Regions from separate parts of the Homo sapiens genome. Here region 1 is linked to region 2. The links come from fine-mapping of genetic effects on gene expression. A gene starts in region 2. The other region holds a variant in brackets. All regions are shown on one strand. Distances are from middle to middle. Region 1 overlaps LOC105369350 (a long non-coding RNA gene). Region 2 holds the start of CST6 (cystatin E/M).

Evidence for each region.
Region 1: its variant is fine-mapped to the expression of CST6 in lung (TOPMed, PIP 0.94).

Annotation. Positions count from the first base shown.
Region 1 is chr11:65,925,767-65,941,063 of GRCh38, reverse strand. LOC105369350 (a long non-coding RNA gene) reads left to right here. Exons shown (of 3, transcript XR_950212.3): 2 at 2,585-2,756; 3 at 2,968-3,272. Among named protein-coding and RNA genes, the nearest start is that of TSGA10IP, 12 kb to the left of the region's middle. RefSeq lists enhancers at 1-46, 3,303-3,827, 12,652-12,946, 12,661-13,090 and a cis regulatory region at 12,627-13,192. The variant T/C (reference allele first, on the strand shown) is at 3,819.
Region 2 is chr11:66,003,445-66,016,000 of GRCh38, reverse strand. It overlaps CST6 (cystatin E/M), which reads right to left and starts at 3,993. Exons shown (of 3, transcript NM_001323.4): 1 at 3,717-3,993; 2 at 3,050-3,175; 3 at 2,496-2,684. The coding sequence starts at 3,956. The coding sequence ends at 2,601. BANF1 (barrier to autointegration nuclear assembly factor 1) reads right to left here. Exons shown (of 3, transcript NM_003860.4): 3 at 11,852-12,375. The coding sequence ends at 12,229. RefSeq lists enhancers at 1,936-2,511, 6,897-7,691, 11,963-12,556 and a silencer at 8,349-8,643.

The sequences.
Region 1 (15,297 bases), 76 kb after region 2:
AGAGACGGGGTTTCGCTATGTTGGCCAGGCTGGTCTCGAACTCCTAACCTCGTGATCCGCCCGCCTCGGCCTCCAAAGTGCTGAGATTACAGGCATGAGCCACCACGCCCGGCCACAGCTCCTCTTTTACTGGACTCACCAGGACCATGGTTTTGTGTTTTTGGGTTTTTGGTTGTTTTTTTTTTTTTTTGAGACAAGGTCTCACTCTGTCACCTAGACTGACTGGAGTGCAGTTGCGTGATCATGGCTCACTGCAGCCTCGACCTCCTGGGCTCAAGTGACACTCCCGCCTCAGCCTCCTGAGCAGCTGGAACTAAAGGTGTGCACCACCATGCCCAGCTGATTTTTTGTATTTTTTGTAGAGACAACGTCTAGCCATGTTGCACAGGCTGGTCTTGAACCCCTGGGCTCAAGAGATCTTCCTGCTTCAGACTCCCAAAGTGCTGGGATTACAGGCATGACAGGCTCATTTTAAATAAAATCTATCAGACAATGAACCCCACTTTTATCTGTAGTCCAGACATCTCCCTCAAGCTCAGAAGGTGAGTCCTGCCTCCCAAACTCGAATGACCCAGTCCACTGCTCCATCTAGGTGTCTAACAGGCATCTCACATTCAACAACTCTGAAACTGACTCCCTGACCCTCCCCACAGCCCTCTCCATCTTGGCCTAGTGACTATGCTATCCTTCTAGTTTCTCGAACCAAAAGCCTAGGCTTTTCTCTCTCTGAAATGCTATGTCCTATCCAACAGTTGTTCCTGATTTCAAAGTGCATTCAGAATCTGAACGCTTACCACCAGCTATTTGGAGCATTCTCAACATCCGTTGTCTTCTACATAGACTTTCTGCTTCTTCATGGTCAATTCCCAACCCAGCAGCCTGGGCCATTTTTTTTTTTTTTGAGATGGAGTCTCTTGTTCTGTCGTCCAGGCTGGAGTGCAGTGGCGCAATCTCGGCTCACTGCAAGCTCCGCCTCCTGGGTTGACGCCATTCTCCTGCCTCAGCCTCCCGAGTAGCTGGGACTACAGGCGCCCGCCACCATGCCCGGCTAATTTTTTGTATTTTTAGTAGAGGCGGGGTTTCACTGTGTTAGCCAGGATGGTCTCGATCTCCTGACCTCATGATCCACCCGCCTCTGCCTCCCAAAGTGCTGGGATTACAGGCGTAAGCCACCGAGCCCGGCCAGCTTGGGCCATTTTTTAAAGACTTCTGCTTAAAACCTGCAATGGGAGCCTGGAGTAGTGGCTCACGCCTGTAATCCCAGCACTTTGAGAGTCTGAGGCAGGAGGATGGCTTGAGCACCGGAGTTTGAGACCAGCCCAAGCAACATGGATAAACCCTGTCTCTACTTAAAATACAAAAAAATTAGCCGGGCATGGAGGTGCATGCCTGTAGTCCCAGCTACTCGGGAGGCTGAGATGGGAGAATTGCTTGAACCCAGGGGGTGGAGGCTGCAGTGAGCCAAGATCACACCACTGCACTCCAGCCTGGGCAACAGAATGAGACTGTCTCAAAAAATAAAATAAAATAAAATAAAATAAAATGAAATACAATACAATAAAATAATAAATACATGTACAGATAGAAAACATCTTTATTGGTTCTTCAGATAATAGAAGTAATATATGCACACTGTCAAAAATTTAAATATGACCAGGTGCAGTGGCTCACAGCTGTAATCCCAGCACTTTGGGAGGCTGAGGCAGGTGGATCACCTGAGGTCAGGAGTTCGAGACCAGCCTGGTCAACATGATGAAACCCCGTCTCAGCTAAAAATACAAAAAAATTACCAGGGTGTGGTGGCAGGCGCCTGTAATCCCAGCTACTTTGGGAGGCTCAGGCAGGAGAATCGCTTGAATCAGGGAGGCAGAGGTTGCAGTGAGCCGAGATCGTACCACTGCACTCCAGCCTGGGCAACAAGAGTAAAACTCTGTCTAAAAAAAAATTAAATCTGTGCAGTAGAACTGCTGTTAACTTTTGGGTGTGTATTTGGCCCGTGTTTTTCCCCTGTGAGCACAAACAAATGTGGAACTGACACCCTGAGCAAGGCGGGGTGCAGCATTCGGACAGAGACAGCTGCATCCTTTTCCACCCACCCACTCCCCCTTGGGCCAAGCCGTTCCCAGGCCTGGATAAGACGTGAGCAGGCACTATGACTTCTCAAGTCACCTCAGGTAGTGAAAAGTCCTCTGATCACTAAGAACAGCCTCAGAAATTGAAATTGAAATGTCTAGTCTGGGCCGGGCGCGGTGGCTCACGCCTGTAATCCCAGCACTTTGGGAGGCTGAGGTGGGTGGATCACTTGAGGTCAGGAGTGTCCTGTCCTCACTGCAAGGGGGCCTGGCACCTGATTAGCAATGCAGGGCCCTGGGGCTATTGCTTTGTCCTTGGCCTCCGATGCAAAACCAAGACCTGAGCCAGTGTACCATTTGAATATCTTGTGATTTTAGAGATAGACGTGTGTGTGTGTGTGTGTGTGTGTGTGTGTGTGTGTGTGTATACAAACCTACATATACATATTTTTCAACAAAAATGAGATCATCCTGGTTTTGCCTACTAGAATGTTATATTCTTTCCATGTCAGGACATACAGAGCCACCCAGTCTTTACCATCATCACTGTTTGGCTGTCTGACCCACCTAATGTACATCACCTGTGTCCTTTTGTCAAACACCGGGACTGCTTCCGCTTGCGTCCTCACTCCAGACACTGCAGCTGCGGACATCCCTGGAAATGTGTCTTGAGATTTCTGCAAGGTAATGTTCTATAAGCAAACTAGCTAGCTCTAAGCCATTTAGATCTTGATGGTGCCTAATTATTCCCCCTAAAGGCTCAATCATTATAGATTTCCATCAACAGTATTTATACCCTCACCAGCAATTATAATTTTCACTTTGCTAATCTGATAGATGAAAAGCTATTATTGCATTGTTGCAATAACTTGTATTCTCTTCTCTTTCATGAAAGGGCCAGATATGCAAGGCAGCTCCCGAATGCTGAAGGAGCAGAGAAACCAAAGAACAAGGCAGACAAATCCAGTTTGCTGGTACAGGGTGATTTATTTGGGTGACCTTACAGACAAGCTTGGTCTTGGGCAGCCACGAGACAAACAGATCTCCGTGCCTGTCATCCTAGAGCCAAGGCTTATGTACCATAGGGAAAGGGTATGAGTGTTCTGTGCAAGACAATTAAAGGCAGCCCTCCAGAACAGGCAAGAATCTGCATACGTTATAGCCTATAATTGGTGTGATAACATCAAGGTGGACATAGTCTTATGCTAAGGGCAGTAAATAGAGTAGGAATCAGGAGGTATTCACGGGACTGCAGCTATTCAGAAGTCAGCATGGCGGATTCACGTCTAAGATGGGGTCATTTTTGTCTCCACACCTTCATTATTTGTGAGGTTCAAGTATTTTCCTATCTCCATGGACCATTTGTGCTACCTCTGTGAATTCCTGTCCATGTCCTTTGCACATTTCTCTTCTGCATTAGTCCTGGGGAGCAGATAGCTGAGTTTATTGTATTCCTTATTTCACAGCATACAAAAAGCATCAATGGATGCAATGCGACTCTTGTTTTGCCTTTGTATTTTCTTCTTCATCTTTGATCCCCGCTCCATCCTATTTAAATGTGAATAGGCTGGGCGTGGTGACTCATGCCTGTAATCCCAGCACTTTGGGTGGCCGAGGCAGGTGGATCACTTGAGGTCAGGTGTTCGAAACCAGCCTGGCCAACATGGTGAAACCCCATCTCTACTAAAAATACAAAAATTAGCCAGGCGTGGTGGCACGTGCCTGTAATCCCAGCTACTCAGGAGG[T/C]TGAGGCAGGAGAATTGCTTGAACATGGGAGGCAGATGTTGCAGTGAGCTGAGAACATGCCACTGCATTGTAGCCTGGGCAACAGAGCAAGACTCTGAAAAAAATAAATAAATAAAGAGAGAAAGAAAGAAAGAGAGAGAGAAAGAAAGAAAGAAAGAAAAAGAAAGAAAGAAAGATGTTAACGGATCATTGTGAAGCTTTTATCATTTTTGTGTGTATGTATTTTTTGTTTATGTAAGTGGTATTGTGGTCCGGGTGCAGTGGCTCACGCCTGTAATCCCAGCACTTTGGGAGGTCAAGGTAGGTGGATTGCTGGAGTTCAGGAGTTGGAGACCAGCCTGAGAAACATGGTGAAACCCCAGCTCCACAAAAATATACAAAGAAATTAGCTGGGCATGGTGGCGTGTCCCTGTAGTTCCAGCTACTCGGGAGGCTGAGGCGGGAGGATCACCTGCGCCCAGGAGGTTGAGGCTGCAATGAGCTATGATCACACCACTGCACTCCAGTCTGGGTGACAGAGTGAAACCCTGTCTCAAGAAAAACATAAAAAATAAAACTAAGTATAAAAATAAATAAATGGTATTGTATGTATTTAATTTGCATAAGCAGTATTGATCTCATTTTTGTTCCTTACTCGTTTCCTTCAAAACTGTGCTTTAGGGTTTTTAAAATTTATTTTATTTTCTAGAGATAAGGCCTCACTCTGTCACCCAGGCTGGAGTGCAGTGGTGTGATTATAGCTCACTGCAGCCTCGAACTCCTGGGCTCAGGTGATCCTCTACCACAACCACAACGTCCTGAGTAGCTTGGACTACAGGCATGTGCCACCATGCCTGGCTACTTTAAAAAAAAATTAGTTTTGGAGAGACAGAGGTCTCACTATGCTGCCTAGGCTAATCTTGAACTCCTGGCCTCAAGGACTCCTCCCGCTTAAGCCTACTCAAAATGCTAGAATCAGGCTGGGCAAGGTGGCTTATGCATGTAATCCCAGCACTTTGGGAGGCCGAGGCAGGTGGATTACTTGAGGTCAGGAGTTCAAGACAAGCCTGGCCATCACTGTGAAATCCCGTCTCTACTAAAAATACAAAAATTAGTCGGGCATGGTGGCACACACCTGTAGTCCCAGCTAACTCAGGAGGCTGAAGCAGGAGAATCACTTGAACCCAGGCAGAGGTTGCAGCTAGCTGAGATCACACTACTGCACTCCAGCCTGGGTGACAGAACAAGACTCCATCTCAGAAATAAATAAATAAATAAATAAAAGCTGGAATTAGGCTGGGCGCGGTGGCTCACGCCTGTAATCCCAGCACTTTGGGAGGCCGAAGAGGGAGGATCACGAGGTCAGGAGATTGAGACCATCTTAGCTAACATGGTGAAACCCCGTCTCTACTAAAAATACAAAAAATTAGCCGGGCATGGTGGCGGGCGCCTGTAGTCCCAGCTACTCGGGAGGCTCAGGCCAGAGAATGGCGTGAACCCGGGAGGCAGAGCTTGTAGTGAGCCAAGATCATGCCACTGCACTCCAGCCTGGGCAACAGAGCGAGACTCCTTCTCAAAAAAAAAAAAAAAAAGCTGGAATTATAGGCATGAATCACCATGCCCCATCGTTTTGTTTTTAGAGACAAGGTCTCATATTGCCCAGGCTGGCCTCAAACTCCTGGGGTCAAGAGATCCTCCCGCCTCAGCATCCCAAGTATCTGGGATTATGGGCACATGCCACCCTCCGCTGCTAACACTGTGGTTTTTGTTTTTGTTTTTTGTTTTTTGATTTTTTTTTTTTTTGAGACAGAGTCTCGCTTTGTTGCCCAGGCTGGAGTGCAGTGGTGCAATCTTAGCTCGCTGCAACCTCCACCTCCCGGGCTCAAGCAATTCTCCTGCCTCAGCCTCCCAAGTAGCTGGGATTACAGACTTGCGTTACCATACCCAGCTAATTTTTGTATTTATTTTTTAGTAGAGACCAGGTTTCACCATGTTGGCCAGGCTGGTCTTGAACTGCTGACCTCAGGTGATCCGCCCGTCTCGGCCTCCCAAAGTGCTGGGAATACAGGCGTGAGCCACTGTGCCTGGCCCGCACTGTGTTTTAAAAGCCTTGTAGATCCTGACTGTTGCATAGTGTTCCGTAGTTTCCCTTTGTATGCTTTACTTAATTCATCCTTCTGACAATGGATGCCAGACTGGCTCCCAAGTCCTGTTCTCACAAAGAACACCGTGGTCAACACCGCTGCACATGCCTCTTTGTACACCTGAATGAGAATCTCTCTGGCCTACTTATCCAAGGCTGAGAGTGTAAGGTCTTGGCATAAACATACACCTAATTTCAGATTGCTTGAGAGAAGGGCTGTCAGTTTATGTGCCTACAGAAGACCAAGGATTTCTGTCTGCCCACATTCTCACCAAACATTGACATTATTCACCTTATGAATTTTGACTAACCCTGGGGTCATAAAATGAGGTCTGGTACTTTTTTTTTTTTTTCGAGACGGATTCTCGCTCTCTCGCTCTGTTACCCAGACTGGAGTGCAGTTGTGCAATCTCAGCTCACTGCAACCTCCACCACCCACGTTCAAAACAATTATCCTGCCTCAGCCTCCCGAGTAGCTGGGATTACAGGTATGTGCCACCACGACTGGCTAATTTTTGTAAAGATGGGGTTTCACCATGTTGGCCAGGCTGCCCTCGAACTCCTGACCTCAAGTGATTCACCCACCTTGGCCTCCCAAAGTGCTGGGATTACAGGTGTGAGCCACCGTGCCTGGCCAGAAATCCTTAATCTTTTTTTAAGTCTGGTAAAAAAAAAATCTTTAATTTTGATGGAGTTAGACTCATAAATGTTTTTGAATAGAGCTTTGTATTTTGAGAGTCTTTCTTTTCCTATCCCTAGGTGGGGTATTTTCCTATATTCTATTCTATTAGTTTACGCTTAACATCTGTGTCCATAACGAAATGCTCTGTGTACAGACTTTTCTGATACTGTCTTTATCTGGCTTGCGGGGGTCATACAAGAAATTGGGCAGCCTTCTCTCTTTCTGGCTTCTGTAACAACTGGTGTGAGATAAGGACCATCTGTTCCTCCAAAGGCTGGTAGAACTGCCCTATAAAAACATTTCTATTGGGTTTTTTCACATTGGAGTCTCAGATTACAAGTTTCTTTTTCTTTTAGTTTTTTTTTTTTTTTTTTTTTTGAGATGGAGTCTTGCTCTGTCGCCCAGGCTGGAGTGCAGTAGAGTGATCTCGGCTCACTGCAACCTCCACCTCCCAGGTTCAAGTGATTCTCGTGCCTCAGCCTCCCAAGTAGCTGGGATTACAGGCATGTGCCACCACATCCGGGTAATTTTTGTATTTTTAGTAGAGACAGAGTTTCACCATGTTGGCCAGGCTGGTCTCGAACTCCCAACCTCAGGTGATCTGCCTGCCTTAGCCTCCCAAAGTACTAAGATTATAGGCGTGAGCCACTGTGCCCGGCCTATTGTAGTGTTGTTGTTGTTGTTGTTTTCCCAAGAGACAGGGTCTCGCTATGTTTCCCAGGCTGATTTTATATTCCTCGCCTCAAATGATCCTTCTGCCTTAGCCTCCCAAAGTGCTGAGGTTAGGACGGGTGCAGTGGCTCACACCTGTAATCCCAGCACTTCGGAAGGCTTAGCCAGGTGGATCACCTGAGGTCAGGAGTTCGAGACCAGCCTGGCCAACGTGGTGAAACTCTGTCTCTACTAAAAATACAAAAAAATTAGCTGGGCGTGGTGGCTGGCGCCTTTAATCCCAGCTACTCGGAAGGCTGAGGCAGGAGAATCGCTTGAAAATGGGAGGCAGGGGTTGCAGTGAGCCGAGATTGCGCCACCACACTCCAGCCTGGGCAATAAGAGTGAGACTCCATCTCAAAAACAAAATAAAACAAAGTGCTGAGGTCACAGGCATGAGCTACTCAATTTTCTTTCCTGGTTATGGGTCTACTGAAGTTTTGATATTTTTGTGCCAATTTTGACATTTCACATTCTTCCAGAAAGGTATTTACTTTGCTTAAGTTTCTATATTTACCAACATACAATTATTTGTAATGTTTTTTGGTATTTTGATATTTTATGTTATTTGGAAATGGGGTTTTGCTATGTTGCTCAGACTGGACTCAAATTCCTGGGCTAGAACGATCCTATTGAGTAGCTGGGACTACAGGTGTGTGCCACTGTGCCCAGGTTGGTATTTTGATATTTTAAACCTCCATGGGGGGCTGGGCACGGTGGCTCACACCTGTAATCCTAGCACTTTAGGATGCCGAGTTGGGCAGATCGCTTGAGGTCAGAGGTTTGAGATCAGCCTGGCCAACATGGTGAAACCCCGTCTCTACTAAAAAAATACAAAACAATTAGCCAAGTATGGTGGCACACACCTGTAGTCCCAGCTACTCGGAAGGCTGAGGCTCAAGAATCACTTGAACCCGGGAGGCAGAGGTTGCAGCAAGCTGAGATCGCGTCATTGTATTCCAGCCTGGGCGACAGAGTGAGACTCCGCCTCAAAAAAATAAATAAATAAACCTCCATGGGGGGGTGCTCAAGAGTCAGATCACGTGGGGCCTGGGAGCCAGGGAAAGGATTCTGGGTTTGTCCTAAGGATGAACAGCGTGCAAGAATATTTGACTGAGGCTCTAGAATGGAATGGATATGAAATGCCAAAGTGAAGTGCTTGCTCCTGGCCAAACTGCAAAATTTTAAAGAAAGCAGAAACCCATGTTGCCACTGTCGAAGCCCCTCATCCACCGCAAGAGTATAAAGGGATCGAGGGTGGATTTGAAAGGGGCAGTTTGCGGTGATTTGATTTGGAAAGAGCTGCTATGGCAGTGAGTCTGCAGGGGGTGGAGCTGGGGAGCTGCCTTCTAACCTCAAATCTGGTGAGAAGTGCTTCAAGGAAGCCCCCCAGAGCGCTTGAGGTGGGCTTCCTGCAGTCATGGCACCCCCGTGGGTCATTGGTAGGAAAGGCCTCCAGAAAGGAGGTGACCTGCAGTGGGCACTGGACCGCAGGAATGGAAAAAGGGGTCTGGCCCCACGGGCTTGTTTTCTCTGGCACAGGGTATGCAACAGAGTGGGGTAGTGCATGCCACTTGAAAGAAAACCAGAGCCAGTCAACAGAGAGGGGCTGCCCCTTTGCCAGGAGTTTCAGTCAAGGGGGTAGTACATAAGGGAGCCCATAAAACCCCTGAGGGCAGGAGCCAGCTTTAGACAGCTGCCACCCAAGGAGTGAGATGCCATCTTACACCAGTGTCAATCCAGGATGCACTCTCTGCACCCACTGCCCTCCCTCCCTGTTCTCCAAAGGCAGCGTCTTCTCAAGCCTGGGAATGGGGCCAGGGAGAGGCGCAGACCCGACTTCCCTGACTCCTTATCAGTGGGGGCTGCAATGGCCAGAAGTGGAAAAAGCTGTGTTCGTTTTTTTTGTTTGTTTGTTTGTTTGTTTGTTTGTTTTGAGACAAGCTCTCGCTCTGTTGCCCAGGCTTGAGTGCAGTGGTGCTATCTTGGGTCCCTGCAGCCTCAAACTCAAGCGATCCCTGCAGCCTCAGCCTCACGACCAGCTGGGACTACAGGTGCGTACTACCACGCCCAGCCCAAGAATACTTCATTCTAAATCAAGTTCTGGGATTTGGCCACTACACAAAACTGGGCACTTTAATAGAGATTTGTTTAGTAACTTTAGGTGATCACAGGACGATGAGGAAATGGCAGCATAAGATGTAATGGCTGCACTCCCTCTGGCTGTGAGTAGAAATTAGACTGGAGGGCCTGGGGTGGAAACAGTGGCCTGTCATCCAGGAAGTGGGAGGGGAGGGGAAGGGAGGGGAAGGGAGGGCAGGGGAGAGGTCTGAGCCTGGGCCCACCACCATTCAGAGGTCAAGAGAGGTCAGGGAGATGTGGCCATGGAGACAAGACCACAGCCCACGGTGGGGAAGAAGATTGCCAAGAGAGGCCGGGCGCGGTGGCTCACGCCTGTAATCCCAGCACTTTAGGAGGATGAGGCGGCGGATCACAAGGTCAGAAGATCGAGACCATCCTGGCTCATACGGTGAAACCCCGTCTCTAGTAAAAATAAAAAAAATTAGCCATGCGTGGTGGCGGGCGCCTGTAGTCCCAGCTACTCGGGAGGCTGAGGCAGGAGAATGGTGTGGACCCGGGAGGCGGAGCTTGTAGTGAGCCGAGATGGCGCCACTGCACTCCAGCCTGGGTGAGAGTGCGAGACTCCGTCTCAAAAAAAAAAAAAGATTGCCAAGAGAGTGAGGGCCCCCATCCAAGTGAAGAAAGTGTTTCAAAGAGGAGGCAAGCGACCAACTATGACAAGAGCCACTGAGAGGTCAAGGCGAGCCCAAATGAGAACAACTGAATCGCCTGGACCCATTCTCCAAGGACTCATTGTGGGAGGCTTATTACAGGCTTTGGCTGTGCGAATGCGGCTGAGATTGGCCTTCACCACATCACACCGCAGGCCCCATCTGAAACTGTTCTTTTGCAGCTAAAGTCTAGGAAAAAATTTCTTTCCACTGAAGAAGTTTTCTCCGGAAAAAAAAAAAAAAGTTTTTTGCTTTGGCTGCCAGAAAGCTCAGAACTAAATTTGATATTGAATTAATAAAGCACTTTTACAGGCCTTTATGGGTTGCATATTTATATATGTATGCTATTGTTTCTGATCTTTATTTTCTCTTTTAATTATATTTTATTATTTTATTTAAAAAATTTTTTAATAATTTTTTTAGAGACAGGGTCTCACTATGTTGCCTAGGCTGGTATCAAACTCCTGGCCTCAAGTGATCCTCCTGCCTTGGCCTCCCAAAGTGCTGGGATTATGGTGTGAGCCATCCCATGTGGCCTAAATTTTTTTTTTTTTTTTTTTTTTCAGATAGAGTTTCGCTTTGTCACCAGGCTGGAGTGCAGTGGCACGATCTTGGCTCACTACAACCTCCATCTCCCGAGTTCAAGAGATTCTGCTGCCTCAGCCTCCCGAGTACCTGGGGCTGCAGGCGTGCACCACCACACCCAGCTAATTTTTGTATTTTTAGTAGAGACAGGGTTTCACCATGTTGGTCAGGATGGTCTCGATCTCTTGACCTCGTGATCCGCCCTCCTCAGCCTCCCAAAGTGCTGGGATTACAGGCATGAGCCACCACACCCGGCCTAAAATTTTTTGTTTTTAGAGATAAGATCTTGCTATGTTGCCCAGTCTGGACTCACATTCCTGGTCTCAAGTGATCCTCCCTCCTCGGGCCTCCAGAGTAGCTGGGAGTGCACCACTGGTAGCACGGGTGTATACCACTGCACCCATCCACATTCTTGAATCTCCATTTCTGTTTTTTAAATTTTACCTTCCTTGTTCTTGTTGGAAGCCACCTCAGGTGCACTGGGAATGTGGTTTGCAAATTAATCAATGGTATTTCATTTATTCGGCAAGCATACAATGATGTCTTGTAGTAGTCAGGTCTCTCTAGCATACAATTGGCCTAAATACATTATTAAAGATAAAAATAAATGTCTTCACCCATTCTCTGTTGCTTATAACAGAAAACCTGGAACTGGGTAATTTATTTAAAAAACGGAGTCTTGCTCTATCGCCCAGGCTGGAGTGCAGTGGTGCGATCTCGGCTCACTACAACCTCCACTGCCCAGGTTCTCGCAATTCTGCAGCCTCAGCCTCCTGAGTAGCTGGGATTACAGGCACCCACCACCACATCCAGCTAATTTTTGTATTTTTAGTAGAGATGGGGTTTTGCCATGTTGGCCAGGCTTGTCTTGAACTCCTGATCCCAGGTGATCTGCCTGCCTCAGCGTTCCAAAGTCCTGGGATTACAGGCGTGAGCGATTGCACCCGGCCACATGTGCTGTCTTGAGTCTCACGGCCACCCCTGACCAATGGCTGTGGGGAGGGTATCTTGACCAGCGGTCCTGGAGGTGCCACCTGGTTGGAGTGGGGTGGGCGTCAGTTCTCTAGGGATACGGATATGATTTGGGGTGGCCTGAAGGAAGAAGGGCAGGGCAGACCCATGCACAAAAACATGCCCACCACGTACCTACCACGTGCCAGGCCCTGTGAGACATCCTGGAGACACAGACGTGAATCCGACAGGCCCTGTGTCCCCAAGAGGGGCGCTTTCCAGAAGTGGAGGTGAAACCTGCAAGCACAGTTATCCCAGCCAGAGCATGGGAAGAAACTTGGAGAGGGGACAGGTGAAGGACTTGGGGAGTTCAAAGGATGAGGAGGGACTCTAGGTTCTGGCCTTGAGGAAGTAAGGTGAACTGAAATTGCCCTTTTTCTACAAACAGCTAAGAAACTGGACAAAGCACAGGAAACAAGTGTTTTCAGATATTAGACAAAGGGCAGCTCAGGGCTGTGATCCCTGAAAAACGGAAGATAAAGGGGAGGAGCCCTGACATTGCATAGGTGATTTTCCTACCACTGCACTGGGAGGGCAACCGTTGTTCTCACCGAGTTAAGAAGACGAGACCAGAGTTTGGGAAGGCTCATCTTCAGGGCTTCTGATCTAACTGAAGACAGGCCCAGATATGGGTATTTTAAAGTTCCCCAGGGTCGGCCGGGCACAGTGGCTCAGGCCTGTAATCCCAGCACTTTGGGAGGCCGAGGCGGGTGGATCACTTAAGGTCAGGAGTTTGAGACCAGCCTGGTCAACATGGTGAGAACTTGTCTCTACTAAAAATACAAAAAATTGCCAGGCGTGGTGGCGAGTAGCCTCCCCAGCTACTGGGGAGACTGAGGCAGAAAGGAGAATCACTTGAACCTGGGAGGCAGAGGTTGCAGTGAGCCAAGATCGCGCCACTTCACTCCAGTCTGGGAGACAGAATGAGACCCTGTCTCAAAAAAAAAAAAAAGAAAAAAAGAAAAAAAAGCTCCCCAGGGTTCTAAGATGTAGCCAGGGTTGAGAACCACTAGGCTAATCTGCAACTCCAGACAAAGGCGGAAGGGGGGCAGGGAACCCACAAAACAGAAACCAAACTCTAAGAAAACGGGTAAGAGGAAAGTGAAACCGACTCTGGGCACCAGGCTGGAATGGAAGAGCATCTGTGGCTAAAAACAGGGCAGCCGCACCCCCCTGGAGGAACCAGGGCCCTGCCCACCCACTTGCTTGCTGCGGCTTCAACACGCTGGCCTCCTCGGGGTCCCCTCTCCCCACTACCCCTGGAGAGGCGTGAATGTACCTATTTGTTTACCATCAGTCTGCTGCCCCTTCCCCCAACTGGACTGAGCTAGGGAGCAGAGGCTCTGTGTGTTTTCTCTGAGTTCACCTTCCCCAAGCCCAGAGCAGGGCCCGGCACAGAGTAGGTACTCAGCAAATATTTCTTGAGTGACTGAATGAAGACAATGTATGATCCCATGAATCCTGCAGGGCCATGCTTTACCCTGCCCTATGTGATGCTGTCCCCTGAGGTTGGGCCCATTCTGACAATGTCTTTTCTGTTTTTTCAACACAGGGTGCATAGAATCAAGCAGACATGCGCCTTAGTTTGGGGCACTCCATGCAGCCATAGGGCCCTGAAAAGCTTCCCTTTTCTTTTCTTTTTTGTTTGTTTGTTTGTTTGTTTGAGATGGAGTTTCGTTCCTGTTGCCCAGGTTGGAGTCCCATGGCACGATCTTGGCTCACCGCAACCTCCGCCTCCCGGGTTCAAGCAATTCTCCTGCCTCAGCCTCCCGAGTAGCTGGGATTACAGGCATGCGCCACCATGTCCGGCTAATTTTGTATTTTTAGTAGAGATGGGGTGTCTCCATGATGGTCAGGCTGGTCTGGAACTCCCAACCTCAGGTGATCCGCCCACCTTGGCTGCCCAAAGTGCTGGGATTACAGGCTTGAGCCACCACACCCAGCCTAAAGCTTCCCCTTTCAATGGACTCTCCCCTTCCCTGCATCCCAGTCCTACTCCTGCTGCTTTGAGCCACGACATCCCCTTGTCTGTTTAGTACATGCCCTTCCAATCTGCTTTCCAGGATCTTATTTCCATAAATGTCCATAACAGCAGGCACCATTTATTGGGTGCTTACTGTATGCCAGGCACTGTGCTGAGCGACTTACATATCATATCTCATGAAACCATCACATGTCCCTGAAGGAGGTGCTATTATGATCCCCGTTTTACAGATTAGAAAATAGAGATAGGCTGGGCAAGGTGGCTCACGCCTGTAATCCCAGCACTTTGGGGGGCCGAGGCGGGCGGATCACCTGAAGTCAGGAGTTTGAAACCAGCCTGACCAACATGAAGAAACCCTGTCTCTACTAAAAACAATACAAAATTAGCCGGGTGTGGTGGCGTATGCCTGTAATCCCAGCTACTCGGGAGGCTGAAGCAGGAGAATCGCTTGAACCTGAGAGGCGGAGGTTGTGGTGAGCCGAGATAGCACCACTGCTCTCCAGCCTGGGTGACAAGAGAGAAACTCCGCCTCAAAAAAAGAAAAGAAAACAGAGGTAGAGGCCAGGTGGGGTGGCTCATGCCTGTAATCCCAGCACTTTGGGAAGCTGAGGAGGGTGGATCACTTGAGGTCAGGAGTTTGAGACCAGCCTGGGCAACAAAGTGAGATCCCATGTCTCAAAAAATATATATATACATATATATATGTGTGTACATATATATACACACACATACACACACACACATATATATACACACATATATAGGCACACACATATACATATAAAAATACATATATTTGTGTATATAGAGACATATACATATATATTTGTATCTATACGGTCTCGTCCATGTTCTGGAGCCGAGCATCCCTGTAACTTGGAAGGAATGGCCTCAGGTGTGGCGGGATAGGTTGTTAACTTCACCTCTCCATGCCCTGTTCCACACACACACCTGTGTTTAAGTCCAGACCCACCCTAATCAAAGGCCCTGTACCAAAAAGGGGAGGGACCAGACCCGTGGTGGAGGGTCTGGATCACAAGTACCATTCCCTTGCCTTTCTTTTATTTATTTATAAAAGAAAACAGGCCAGGCACGGTGGCTCATGCCTGTAATCCCAGCACTTTGGGAGGCCGAGGCTGACGGATCACTTGAGATCAGGAATTTGAGACCAGCCTGGCCAACATGGCTAAACCCTGTCTCTACTAAAAACACAAAAATTAGCCGGGCATGGCGGCACGCACCTGTAGTCCCAGCTACTCAGGAGGTTGAGGCAGGAGAATCGCTTGAACCTGGGAGGTGGAGGTTGCAGTGAGCCAAGACTGCTCCACTGCACTCCAGCCTGGGCGACAGAGAGAGAGATTGTCTCAAAAAAATGAAAAGAAAAAGAAAAAAGAAAACAGAGGTAGAGACAGCTTAAAGTCACTTGTCCAAGGTAACAGAGTAAGTGGCAGAAATGCCGTATAAAGGATTCTCATGTATGTCTGCGTTTTTTGTTTCTTGTTCTCTATTTGACTATTTGTCACTCAGCACTCTGCATTTAAGCTCTATCCCTGTTGCCTTCTGCCCAGGCAGTTCTCCATTGATGGACACTG
Region 2 (12,556 bases):
TGAGTCAAGTTCAAGCCTCGCCCTGGCCCCAGGGGTCTCTCCTTAAGTGGAGGGTTTTCCATTATCTACAACAGCCATCTCACCTCTAGTAGAGGCGAATCCAGGGTGCAGTTCAGGCCGGAGGGAGTCAGGAGCGGGAGCTGAAGGGCAATAGTTTTTTGCCAACCCTCCCATCTCTGGACCAGACCAGTCAGTGCTGGAGCTTCCAGGGTCCCAGGACAGAAGAAGCACCTCCCCTCCCTGGTCTGGCGGAAGGCACTGGCTGGCCCAGGGCCCAGGGCCCAGGAATAGACTATGCGGAGGAAATGCCATCTGGGATTTGGGCACAGATTCCAGGGGCGGAGAGGTCACCGGGCAGGCGTCTCTGGGCCTTGCTTCTCTCCACCACCTCACACATTCATTCAACAGGCATTTCCTGCCACCCACCCTGTGCCTGCCCCATGCTGGGAGTCCCTGCTTGGTGGCACATGGGAGCCCTTCCAAGCAGCAGGCCCCGCACACACCCTGGGCTGTCTGAGCTGCCACATCTGACAAGCTTGAGCAGAAGCAGGGCTGGATGTTGTCTCCTGGGTCCCCAGCTCCTGTCAAATGCCACCCCTCAGCTTCTCACTCCCAGGTGGGACCCAGGGTCTACTTCCCGTTTCCCCGTCTCTACCCCAATCTGGCCTCCAAAGGCCGACAGCAGGGCCTGGGAGCTGGGGCTGCTGCTTATTAGGCCCCAGCCTTGGGCAGGGGACCAGGCAGGCACAAGCAGGGTGTGAGGCCTTGTCAGAAAGGAAGGACCGTGGGATGCTCTCCGCAGCCACTGCAGTGCTGCCTGCCTGGGCCTGATGGTGCCTATACCTAGCACCCCCAAGGCCCATATCCCAAGTGTGGGTGTGTGCTTGTGCATCTGAGGAACCTCTGGGTGTGGCATGTGGGTCCTTGGGTTGTGTTTGAGTTTTGTGTGTACATCTCCAGGTTGTTTCTCTAGGGTGTGTTGCTTCTGTGCTCATGAGTTGCTAGGCTGTGTTTCTCTGGGTATGCATGTGATATCTGCCAGCATCTGAGTGTGTGCTCTGGGTGTCTGTGTGTGTATGTCTGGTGTGTTGTGCTTTGGGTGTGTGCGTGTGTATATGTATGGGGGGGTATGAATTGCAGCCACAAATTCAGATGTGCAAATGTTGCAATGCTGTTTTCTTCTTCTTTTTTTATTTTTAATTTTTTTGAGATGGAGTCTCGCTCTGTCTCCCAGACTGGAGTGCAGTGGCGCAATCTCGGCTCACTGCAACCTCTGCCTCCTGGATTCAAGCGATTCTCCTACCTCAGCTTCCTGAGTAGCTGAGATTACAGGCACCTGCCACCACACCCAGATAATTTTTGTATTCTTGGTTGAGATGGGATTTCACCATGTTGGCCAGGCTGGTTTTTTTTTTTTTTTTTTTTTTTTTGAGATGGAGTCTGGCTCTGGCGCCCAGGCTGGAGTGCAGTGGCGCCATCTCGGCTCACTGCAAGCTCCACCTCCCGGGTTCACGCCATTCTCCTGCCTCAGCCTCCCGAGTAGCTGGGACTACAGGCGCCCGCCACTACACCCAGCTAATTTTTTGTATTTTTAGTAGAGACGGGGTTTCACCGTGTTACCCAGGATGGTCTCGATCTGCTGACCTCGTGATCTGCCCGCCTCGGCCTCCCAAAGTGCTGGGATTACAGGCGTGAGTCACCGCGCCCGGCCACCAGGCTGGTCTTGAACCCCTGACCTCAGGTGATCCATCCACCTCAGCCTACCAAAGTGCTGGGATTACAGGTGTGAGGCCGGCTGCAATGCTGTTTTCTTTAAATGACATTACATTGAATCTGTCCCCTCACCCCTCCTGTGGGCGCTAGACAATCTCTGTCCCTCTGCGGCTCCTAGTCTAGCCCCTTTCAGGCGTCTTGCCCAGGGCAAGGCAAGAGAGGCGTCCTTGTGGCGTGGAGCCCACAGTGTGGACTGAGAGGCACTGTCCTAGCCTTCATGGTCTCTTGGCCTGCAGGGACTCTGCCATCGTTGGGCCACATGCAGGTGGAGGAATCTTTATAGGCTGGGAGCTCAGTGTCCTGGGTGAGGACACTGCCTGATTGAAGCCCCCCATGCCACCCATGAGCTCCTCCTGGGGCTGAGTGGGAGCACAGCACAGACTCCTCCTCAGAGTGCTCCCAGGCAGCCGGCCCTGTTCTTATCTCAGGCCATCGCCCCTCCTCTGTGAGTCTGCCGCCACCCCTGACCTCTGAGAATATTGGGAGTCTCTGGCTGTGTGTGGGGGCTCTAAGGTTTGTTCCTCTATGCCTGTGATGCTGGGGTGTTTGGGGGCTCCACATTTGGAGGCTCAGCCCTGCACCTTCAGCACTGTCTGGGCTGGGACAGCAGCAGCTCTGCTGCAGGTGGCAGGGTGACCTCTCAGCTTGGGCTGGGGAGCTGGGAGCTGCCAGAAGTGGGAGTGGGGGATGGGGGCAGAAGCGAAGCACTTGGAAGAAACCAATGCAAGAAGCAGCACTGGCCATTTATTGTGACAGATACGGCCCACGGACCTGAAGTGCCCTCCACCATGGCCCCAAACCCAATGGCCTTCGCCCTCGGGGACTTATCACATCTGCACACAGTTGTGCTTTAGGAGCTGAGAGGAGTTCTGCCAGGGAACCACAAGGACCTCAAAGTCACAGCGCAGCTTCTGTGGAGGGAATATGGGGGAGAAGGAGGGGTGAGCCCAGCCTCGACCTGTCTCCTCCCAACAGCCAGCCCTCTGCCTGCCAGGCTGCTCCAGGCCAAGAGAGGGACAATCACTGACCCAACGGATGTCAAGCCGCATGTCTGGGGCTAGACTCCAGATCTTGGTAGCCAACTTCCCCATTCCCGAGGGAAGCCCCAGCTTCCTTTCTGCACCCCATCTTGGCCCAGAGGCTGACTCATCCAGAAGGACGACAGGTTCAGCCAGACATCTAGACATCTACGTGTCCAGCCAAACCAGTTCAGGATGGACAACCTGAGTGCCTGAGGCTCTGGGGAGGGCTGGGGCTGGAGGAGCCCAGCTGTTACCTCCTGCTGCGCCCCTGCTGCCAGGGGGCAAGTGGTGAGGTCGACGTGGTCTCCAGTGACCCTGGTCTTGCGGCAGTCTGTGCTCCCCATCTCCATCGTCAGGAAGTACTTGATGCCGGCCACCAGCTGGGGGCATAGGGTAGGGGCAGGTCAGGGGTCTTGACCCTTGATCCTCACTTCTCACCTCTTGATATATTCTCCTGTTGCCCCCAGGCACTCAGGTGGGGAGAGAGGGAGAGGGGATGATTCAGACGGGGTGGGGGGGGGTGGGGGGGGGTGGGGGGGGGAGTTCTGGTGGGGATGGAGGGTGGAGAGGCCTGGAGGCTGAGCCCCACCAGCAGCCTTGGCAGACATCAGACATGCCCCATCTAGGGAGCTGCCCACTGTCCCCACCTGCCTTCCCTCCTCCCCGATCCACCCCATCAGGGCAGAGACTAGGACCAGGCAAGCCAGGAAGGCAGGTAGTGCAATACAGGGTTTAATTATGTCTTTCCTTGAAATTTAGATGGTTGTCCATCGTGGAGTTTTAGCATTAATTCGATTTTTAAAATATTGCATGAAAATATCCCGATTGCGCTTTTAGGCCCCCTTCATGCACGCTGGGGCAGCGCCTGTGGCCTCCCCCATCTGGGCCGGGTGTCCCCTCCCAGCACCCCGCCCGCCGCACCTGGCTCTGCGCCTTGATGATGTGCGTGTCTCGGAAGTAGTAGATGCTGTTGCTGCCCATGTTGTAGCTGGCCACGGCCGCCTGCGCCGCCTTCTGCACCTGCGGGTCGTCGGGCGACAGGTCCCGGAGTTCTCCGACCATGCGCTCCTGCGGCCGGGCCCGGGCGTCGCGTGGCAGCGCCAGGAGGCAGAATGCGACCAGGGCCAGGCCCAGCGCCAGCGGGAGGTTCGAACGCGCCATGGCCGTCAGTGCCGTCGGAGCCCTCAGAGCCGTGAGTGCCGAGCTTGCGGCCGCGCAGCTTTTACCCGCTGGGCCGCCCCGCCCGACGCCCGCGATGCGCCCCCGCGGCCTGGAGCTGGGGCGGGGCTCGAAGTTGCCGGGGTCCTGCGAGGTTCAGGGAGCCCAGGAGGCCGAGGGGGCGGCGCGCACCCGCGTGCCAAGACGCTTCCCTGCCCTCCAGGACACACCTGGCCCGGGGAGGGAGAGGACAGCGACAGTCCCCAGCAACAAGTGCCAGTACAGGGACGGTTCACGGGAGGGCTGTCCAGAATGAACTACCAACCGCAGCTCTTCGTGGGCTCTTACTGTTGCCACCATTTCCTAGCTGTGTAACCTCGGAGAAGTCACTTAACCACTCGCTGCCTCAGTTTCCTCTTCTGTACAATGGGTGTTGTGAGGATTCAGTGAGCTGAAACAGGTAAAGTTCTTAGAAGAGGTCTGGTGCTGGATAAACAGCAGGTGAGTAGGACACATTACTGCTCAGCGCTGCCTGACAACCTTCCTGGAGCGCGAGTGACTAATGTTTCTACCTGGCCAGGCACCTAGGCATGCTTGTAATTCCAGCACTTTGAGAGGCCAAGGTGGGAGGACCACTTGAGCCAAGGAGTTCAAGTCAGTGAATCGTGATCTCACCACTGCAGCATTCCAGCCTGGGCGACAGAGCTAGACGCTGACTCAAAAAAAAAAAAAAAAAAAAAAAAAAAAAAGAAGGCCGGGCATGAGGGCTCACACTTGTAATCCCAGCACTTTGGGAGGCCGAGGCAGGCAGATCACTTGAGGTCAGGAGTTCAAGACCAGCCTGGCCAACATGGTGAAACCCCGTCTCTACCAAAAATACAAAAATTAGCCAGGCGTGGTGGCACACACCTGAATTCCCAGCTACTCAGAAGGCTGAGGCAGGGGAATTGCTTGAACCTGGGAGGCAGAGGTTGCAGTGAGCCAAAATGGCACCACTGCGCTCTAGCCTGGGTGACAGAGAGAGACTCTGTCTCACAAAAAAAAAAAAGAAAAAAGAAAAAAAATAGTTTCCACTTTACAGAGAAGGGAAAATGGATTTGCCCAAAGACACCGGCAGGAAATAAATGGTGACACTGGCTTGTGTGTGCTGACAGTCTAAGTCAAATCTGTGGTCTTAAACCAGACTGAGCCCACAGGACACAAACTGCCCAGAAGGAGGGGGTGTCAGTCATGTCAGCTCTGCCATCTTACTGACGGCATGGCTTTGGGCAAGTCCCTCAACCTCCCACACAGAGCCTCCGTGCCCTCGTCTGAAAGACACCTTATCTCCTAAGTTTGTTCTGATATTGATGTTTCGAATCTGGCTGTCCCGTGGATACAGTGAGCATGTGCTGGAGGTACCAGCAAACAAGGCCCATGACTGTGTTTTTAAAGACTCCAATAATTGCCAGGTGTGGTGGCTCACGCCTGTAATCCCAGCACTTTGGGAGGCCGAGGTGGGCAGATCACTTGAGGCCAGGAGTTCGAGACCAGCCTGGCCAACATGGTGAAACCCCATCATAGCCCGCACGGACCTAGGGGGACTGAACAAAGCCGGGCAAACGTGGGAATAAAAGACAAGAGACAAAAGAGTATATTTGGAAGAAGGGGTCAGGGGGCACCTTGCCTCTAGTGGACAAGGGCCCTGAGCTTTACACAGCCCTCTGTATGTAGTAGGCAAAAGAGATAGCGAGAAAGGGGGAGGGTGATTGTCGGGTATGTCAGGTAATTGTCGGTCAGCACTTTGGTTCACAGCAGGCTTGTGAGACTGCATCCTTTGAACAATAGGTGCTAATTTTCTCAGTAGATAACTTCAGGGACCCCAGTGCCAAGGAGTAAGGCCCTCAGCAAACCTTTTGGTGGCAGGGCAGTGGGAGTTTGCCCACATCCTGCATTCGTGATAAACAGGTGGCTGTTTGATCATATAGCCTTCAGTGGAATGCTGAGTTGGTCACAATCCCTTTGGCCCTTTCGGCTCCCAACACCCCATCTCTACTAAAAATACAAAAATTAGCTGGGTGTGGTGGTGCACACCTGTAGTCTCAGCTACTTGGGAGGCTGAGGTGGGTGAATCACTTGAACCTGGGAGGCAGAGGTTGCAGTGAGCTGAGACGGCACCCACTGCACTCCAGCCTGGGTGACAGAGCAAGACTCTATCTCAAAAAAAAAAGACTCCAATAATTAATTGATTATTATTAATAGGTGGTGATCTATTAATCACACGGTAGCTCACACCTGTAATCCCAGGACTTTGGGAGTCGGAAGCAGGAGGATCACTTGAGGCCAGGAGTTTGAGACCAGCCTGGGCAACATAGTGAGCCGTCTCTACCAAAAAATCTAAAATAAATTAGCTGTGCATGGTGGTGCACGCCTGTGGTCCCAGCTACTCGGGAGGCTGAGGTGGGAGGATTACTAGAGTCTGGGAGGTCGAGGCTGCAGTGAGCAGTGATGGTGCCACTGCACTCCACCTGGGTGACAGAGCAAGACTCTGTCTCAAAAAAAAAAAGGAACAGATGAAAAGCAGTGTTGAAGTAGTCAACGCAAGAAAAGTCTGGATTTTGTTGAATTTTTTTTTTTTTTTGTGACAGCGCTCTGTCAGCCAGGCTAGAGTGCAGTGGCGCTATCATAGCTCACTATAACTCGACTTCCTGGCTTCAAGCTATCCTCCCATCTCAGCCTCCCAAGTAGCTGGGACCACAGGCGCATGCCCCCATGCCTGGTTAATTTTTTTCCACACCTGGCTAATTCTTATATTTTTTTGTAGAGATGGGGTCTCACAGTAGTGCCAGGTGGGTCTCGAATGCCTGGCCTCAAGAGATCACGAGATCCTCCCACCTCAGCTTCCCAAAATGCTGGGATTACAGGCAGGCCTTGGAATTATTTGTCTGCATTTTAGAGTTCAGTGTAGTTTGTATTTGTAATTCCATGTTGCTGGGGGGCGGGGCTTATTGTCCCTGGGGCACTAAGATCTTGCAGTGCTTAGAGCCTCCAGGGGCTTCACTGGGGCTTGGAAGAGGTGCTAGGTCACAGTACGTAAAGAGCAGCTGGCAACTGTCACTGTGATGGATATTGTATGTAGGCATCCAGCGTGTCACCCTCCCTTCCTGATTCTGGGCCTTAGAATCCCAGGACCACAAAAGGAAGTGATTTCCCACACAGAGACCTAGACCACAGCGGTCACTCACTGCCCAGGGCAGCTGCCAGCCTGCTACCCACCTCACTTCCTCAGCCCAGCTGTGGAAAACCAACTCTGCCATCTTCCTGGGATTCCAAGGAACCGTCACAAGTTCCTGGCGGCCTCAGGTGTCTGGCTTAAAGGGACAGACTCCAGTTTGTGGAAGTGCTGGCCGAGCTTGAGTTGATCAGGAGGATGACGCCTGGCCAGGACTCTGAGCTGAAAGCCTGGGAGGGGTAGAGGAAGAGTACCAGGATCGTGCCACAGGGGCGAGGTGGGAGAGGCAGCTCCCCTGGGCCTGCTGTGTCATCACTTGGAGCTTAGCCATGGCCACAGGTACCTCCAACAGCTCTCTCAAAAACTAGCCAAGGCCTGTCTGCCACTCACCAAGGGCACCCACTCCACCTGCCTCTGCTTTGTGCTGATGCAAAGGACTTTTTTTGCAGTACAACCTAGCAATTTCTGAGCACTTTTCACCCACTGATTCTCACAAGCACCCTGAGGGAGTACACATTATCCTCACTTTGCAGATGAAGAAGTTAATCAGAGAGGTCGGGACACTTGTCTAAGGTCACACAGCTAGAAGTGGTATCTTGGTAAGAAAAGGTGGGGAGGATTAACAATGGTAAGAACTCTTGCTGTGTGCCAGGCCTTGCGCCAGGGATTCAATATATGTTCTTTCATTCCCATAGCAGCTCTGCACAGACAATGACTATTATCTCTTCCTACAAGGAGGAAATGGGAGATCAAAGGGGAAAGGTTAGTGGTGGGTCCCGGTGCATGAGTCCTGGGCTGCTCCACAGGGGTTTGAGGTCTGCTGTGCATGGTGTAGGGGTTGTTTCTTGCAGATGGGGTGTCCCTGAGCAGACTTTCCCAGGGCCTGACTCCATCCCGTCTGGACCACTCTGGCTTCCAGGAGGTTTGCGCCAAGCGTGAGCTTGAGGTCGGTCAAATGTACTGGCCACAGGGCAGAGCCTCCAGTTTTGCAGTGGCCCAGACATCCCACCCCAGGTTGTCCACAGCACCCCTCTCTTGCCCCTGGCCTGATGGGTGGAGATGACCAGGGCAGGTTCTTGACATCTCCTTCCCTCTGGGATCAGGCTCTCCAAGGCTTCGATGCTTCCCCCAGAACCCTCTTCCTTGAACCTTCAGTTGGGCAGAGGATATTGCCCTCCCCCCAGGGCTCTGTAGCCCCATATCCTGGAAAGGAGATCTTTCAGCAAGGAAACCTGTAATCCAACAGGGATTAAAGCTCCCCTCTGGGGAGGAGCGCTCCTAAGCGCTGCTGATTCACTGGTTGAATCTTCACAACCCTGTTATCAGCTGGCAGAGGAGGCTGTAGCTCAGGGGAGTGAAGCAACTTGCTCCAGATCGCATGGGGAGCAAAGCCCCAGAATCGGGCCTGGCTGGCTCTTCAAGGCTGCCACCAGTCAAGGTTGGGAGTGACAGGAAAGAGCCCTGGTCCCCACAGGGAGGGGCCAGCCTGGAAAGGGATCAACAGTCACAAGCACCTGCTGGGAGCCTTCCATGCTCAGCAGGCTGCCGGGGGCAGGGCTTGTGGTGGTCCAGGTAGCCTCCCCCTACTTCCTTTCTGGGGGCAGCAGGAGCCCTTCAGCACCCCAGAGTGCATGGGCTGGGTTCACACGAAGTTCTAGGCTGGCTCTGAGCACTCATGACTAGACCAGCTGAGGGGGTCAAGCTCTGGCTGGGTGTGATGGGGGGATGGGGTCAGTATTTGCTGATTTCTGGGCCCACCTATGTCCCAGGCTAGTGGGTGGCCAGGCATGTCCTCTTGGACACCACGGGCTGACACTGAGACAACCTGACTCATACCCCTCACCAGCCAGGTCTGCTTTCTGCGCCAGCATTCCAAGCCGTGGTCCCTTTGTCCTGCTGGCTGAGTCGGGCTGGATCTGAGAGGCCACACTGTCACAAGGTACATTCTAGATGCCCTTTGTCTACTGCTGTCCCAGGACAGAGCCAAGAACTTGTGTGGGATGCAATATGGAGTCCTGATAAAGGGTTTGTGGCCTGCCACCTGGTATATGCACTGCCTGTGCCCCAAGGGAGAGGTGAGAAGGCAGGTTCCAGTCCCTTCTATGGCAAAGCCTGTGGGTGAGCCGGGAAAGGCAGACAACAAGGAAATAAAGCAGACAGCATGAGCCGCAGGCTTCCAGCAGGGTCCCAGTGCCACCAGGCGAGGCCAAACCAGGAGGCCAGCGTGGGCAGGAGCCCAGGGAAGGGCTTCATGGAGGAGGAGTCTCCATGACCTCACAGAGCACCAGCAACAAGCTGGCAGCATCAGGACTGAGGTGTGGTGAGGCCGGAGCCCTGCAAAGCCCCCACCTAAGCACACAAGGCCTGCGACAGCATCATAGCATGAGGGTCAAGGCTGAGGGGACTTAGCCGGGAAGACATCAGAAACAGTCTGAAACTCAAGAGAGAGCCCTCGTGACCACCTCAGCCGGGACTCAGACCAGCAGCCTCCCAGGAAGCGGCTTGAAGCACAAGCTGGGCCCTGCTGCAGTCACCTGGTGTCCCTTTCAAGCTGGGCCACTCGCACTTTCCAGTCCCAGCCTTGCACAGAACTCTCATCCCTACAAATAACAATTTAGTTTCTGACCTTTCACTCAATCGTTCCAGCCTCAGGTCTTTATTTTTGGTTTTCCTGTTATCTTTCTATTGTTGAGATGTAGCGAATACACTGAAAAGGGCGCAGAACATACACTTTTGGTCAATGCCTGTACCACCACCCCATAGGTCAGAAACACAGGTCAGGGTAGGCCAAGCCTACCCTTAAGCCCTTCCACACCCTCCCCCAAAGATAATCCCTGTAGACTTTTTCCTTTACTATTTACCATAATCATTTCCTTTGTTTTCCTTCTAGTTTTACCATCTATGTAGGAATTCCTAAGAATTTGTTTGTCTTCATTTGCTATTGAGATTCGTGTTGTACACAACTATCATTTGTTCATTTTTACCTCCGTCCAGTGTCCGGTGGCATGAGTGCCTATTTATCTACTCTAGTATTGACAGCCGCTAGCGTTGCTCCCAACAATGCAGCTGCAAACTCATCTAGGTCCTGCTGCAGGTGTTCGGGACTTTCTTCAAGGCACAGTCCTGAGAGTGGAACTGCTTGGTCACAGGGCGTGTCAGTTTTACTAAATAACACCCAACTGTCTTCCCAAATTGTTTAGACCAATTTATACTCCCACCAGCTAGGTATCAGTTCCTGTTGCTTCATTATCTCATCAATACTTGGTATTGTCCAACTTAAAAGTGTTTGCCAGTCAGGTGGGTGTTAATGGCATGTGATGTCTTATTACTAGCAATATGGAGCACCTTTCCTGTGCTTATTTACTGGGAGGGAACCCTCTTCTGTGGCCGTCTTAGATCTTTTACCCATTTTTCTGTTGTTTTTTTTTTTTTTTGAGACAAAGTTTCATTCTGGTCACCCTGGCTGGAGTGCAATGGCCGTGATCTCGGCTCACTGCAACCTCTGCCTCCCAAGTTCGATTCTCCTGCCTTAGTCTCCTGAGTAGCTGGGATTATAGGCGTGCACCACCACACCCGGCTAATTTTTGTATTTTTGGTAGAGATGGGGTCTCACCATGTTGGCCAGGCTGGTCTTGAACTCCTGACCTCAGGTGATCCACCCACCTCGGCCTCTGAAAGTGCTGGGATTACAAACGTGAGCCATTGCGCCCAGCCAGTCCGCTTTTTTCTTGATTGCAATTCTGTATGTGCTATGGAAATAGTCCTTTGTTGTTTATACTGCTGCAAATATCCTTTCCCTACAACCACCTCATTTTCCAAGTGGAGAAACTGAGGCTCAGAGAGGCTAAGCCACATGACCAAGGAACACATGGCCGGGTCCCTGGGTTTCCAAGCTAGTTTGAGTTCCAGTCTGGCTACTTCCCAGGAGCAAGTCCATGGGCAAATTAGCCTCTCTGAGCCTCAAATTTCCTCACCTGTAAAGGAGAAAATATTTATTACTGTGAAAGAAAAAAATGTTTGCAAAGATTTTAGCTTCAAGCCTGGTTCATACTAAGTGTTCAAGAAATAATAGGGCTGGCCGGGTATGGTGGCTCACACCTATAGTCACAGCGCTTTGGGAGGCTTAAGGATCGCTTAAGGCCAGCATGGGCAACAGAGCAGGGCCCTGTCCCTATTAAGTTAAAAAGTAAACAAAAAGAACAGGACTAAAATGTACTGAGGTGTACTCCCCTCACATCCTTCCAGCTGTGATGCCTGTGCTCCTTCTCCTCCCTAAGAGATCATGGAAGATGGCAAGCACCCTGCCCACCCTTACAGAGGCCGGGAGAGCAGATGATGACTGGCAGGTGAACTCTCACCCACATCCGGCCCACCCTGTCTGGTACCTCTGACTCCCACTGACTTTTCCACCAGGTGCTGCCTAGCCCAGCTGTTGACTTAACTGACATCTGGAGCACAGTCCATCTGGCTCCCAGGAAAAGATCCACCCACACCCTCTCCCACATCACTCGGGGATTGAGACAAAAGTCACCTGCCTGAGGCCTACATGGCTAGGGTGGCTGCCCTCTGGGAGTGGAAGGGAAGCTGCCAGTTTCGGTCTCTACTGATAAGGAGTGAGGGAAACATGGTCAGTCCCTGAAGGAGAGGCAACTCCCAGCCCACTTGCTTTTCAGTGCACAAAGCCCAGTCATGAAAGCCACTGACTTTATTGATCTAAAAAACTTTACAAGGACAGTGACTGTTCTGCCAAAAAAGGAGCCAAATGGTATCAAACGGATTGAAAGTGAGGGTGGGGGTGAGGGATGGGGCCGGGAATCCATTCAGGAAAGCTGGTAACTGTCACCAGGGAACTGGCAAGGGAAAAAGGACGGGGGAGGCATGCAAGAGCGAGAATCCAAAAAAAAGTTGAAATGGTTAGGGGAGAAAACTCCCAAAAGACCCCGGAGTACGTCGGAGGTGAGTACGACAATAGCAATCTTTTCCTTCGTAGAGGACAGGGGAGGAGTCCCTACTCGGCTGCAAACTCTGGATGAGGGCTGGGGATTGAGAGCTTCCCAGAGAGCATCACAAGAAGGCGTCGCACCACTCTCGAAGGCATCCGAAGCAGTCCCGGGACTGCTTGGCGTTGGCGCCACAAGTGTCTTTCAGCCATTCCCGGAAGAGGTCTTCATCTTTCTTTAGCACCAGAAACTGGCCAAGGACAACATAGGCCTGCAAAACAGGGAAAAGGAAGGAGCGTGCTGCTCAGTGCTCAGTGAGAGATAAGAGCAAGACAGCCATTCCTGTGCCATTCAGAGCACACAAGCCCAGGAAGCAGCGCGGGTTTTGCCCCCCTCTCCTCTCCACCAGGTGCCCAGGCTCTGGCAGCCTCTTCAGATTATACCTTACTGTC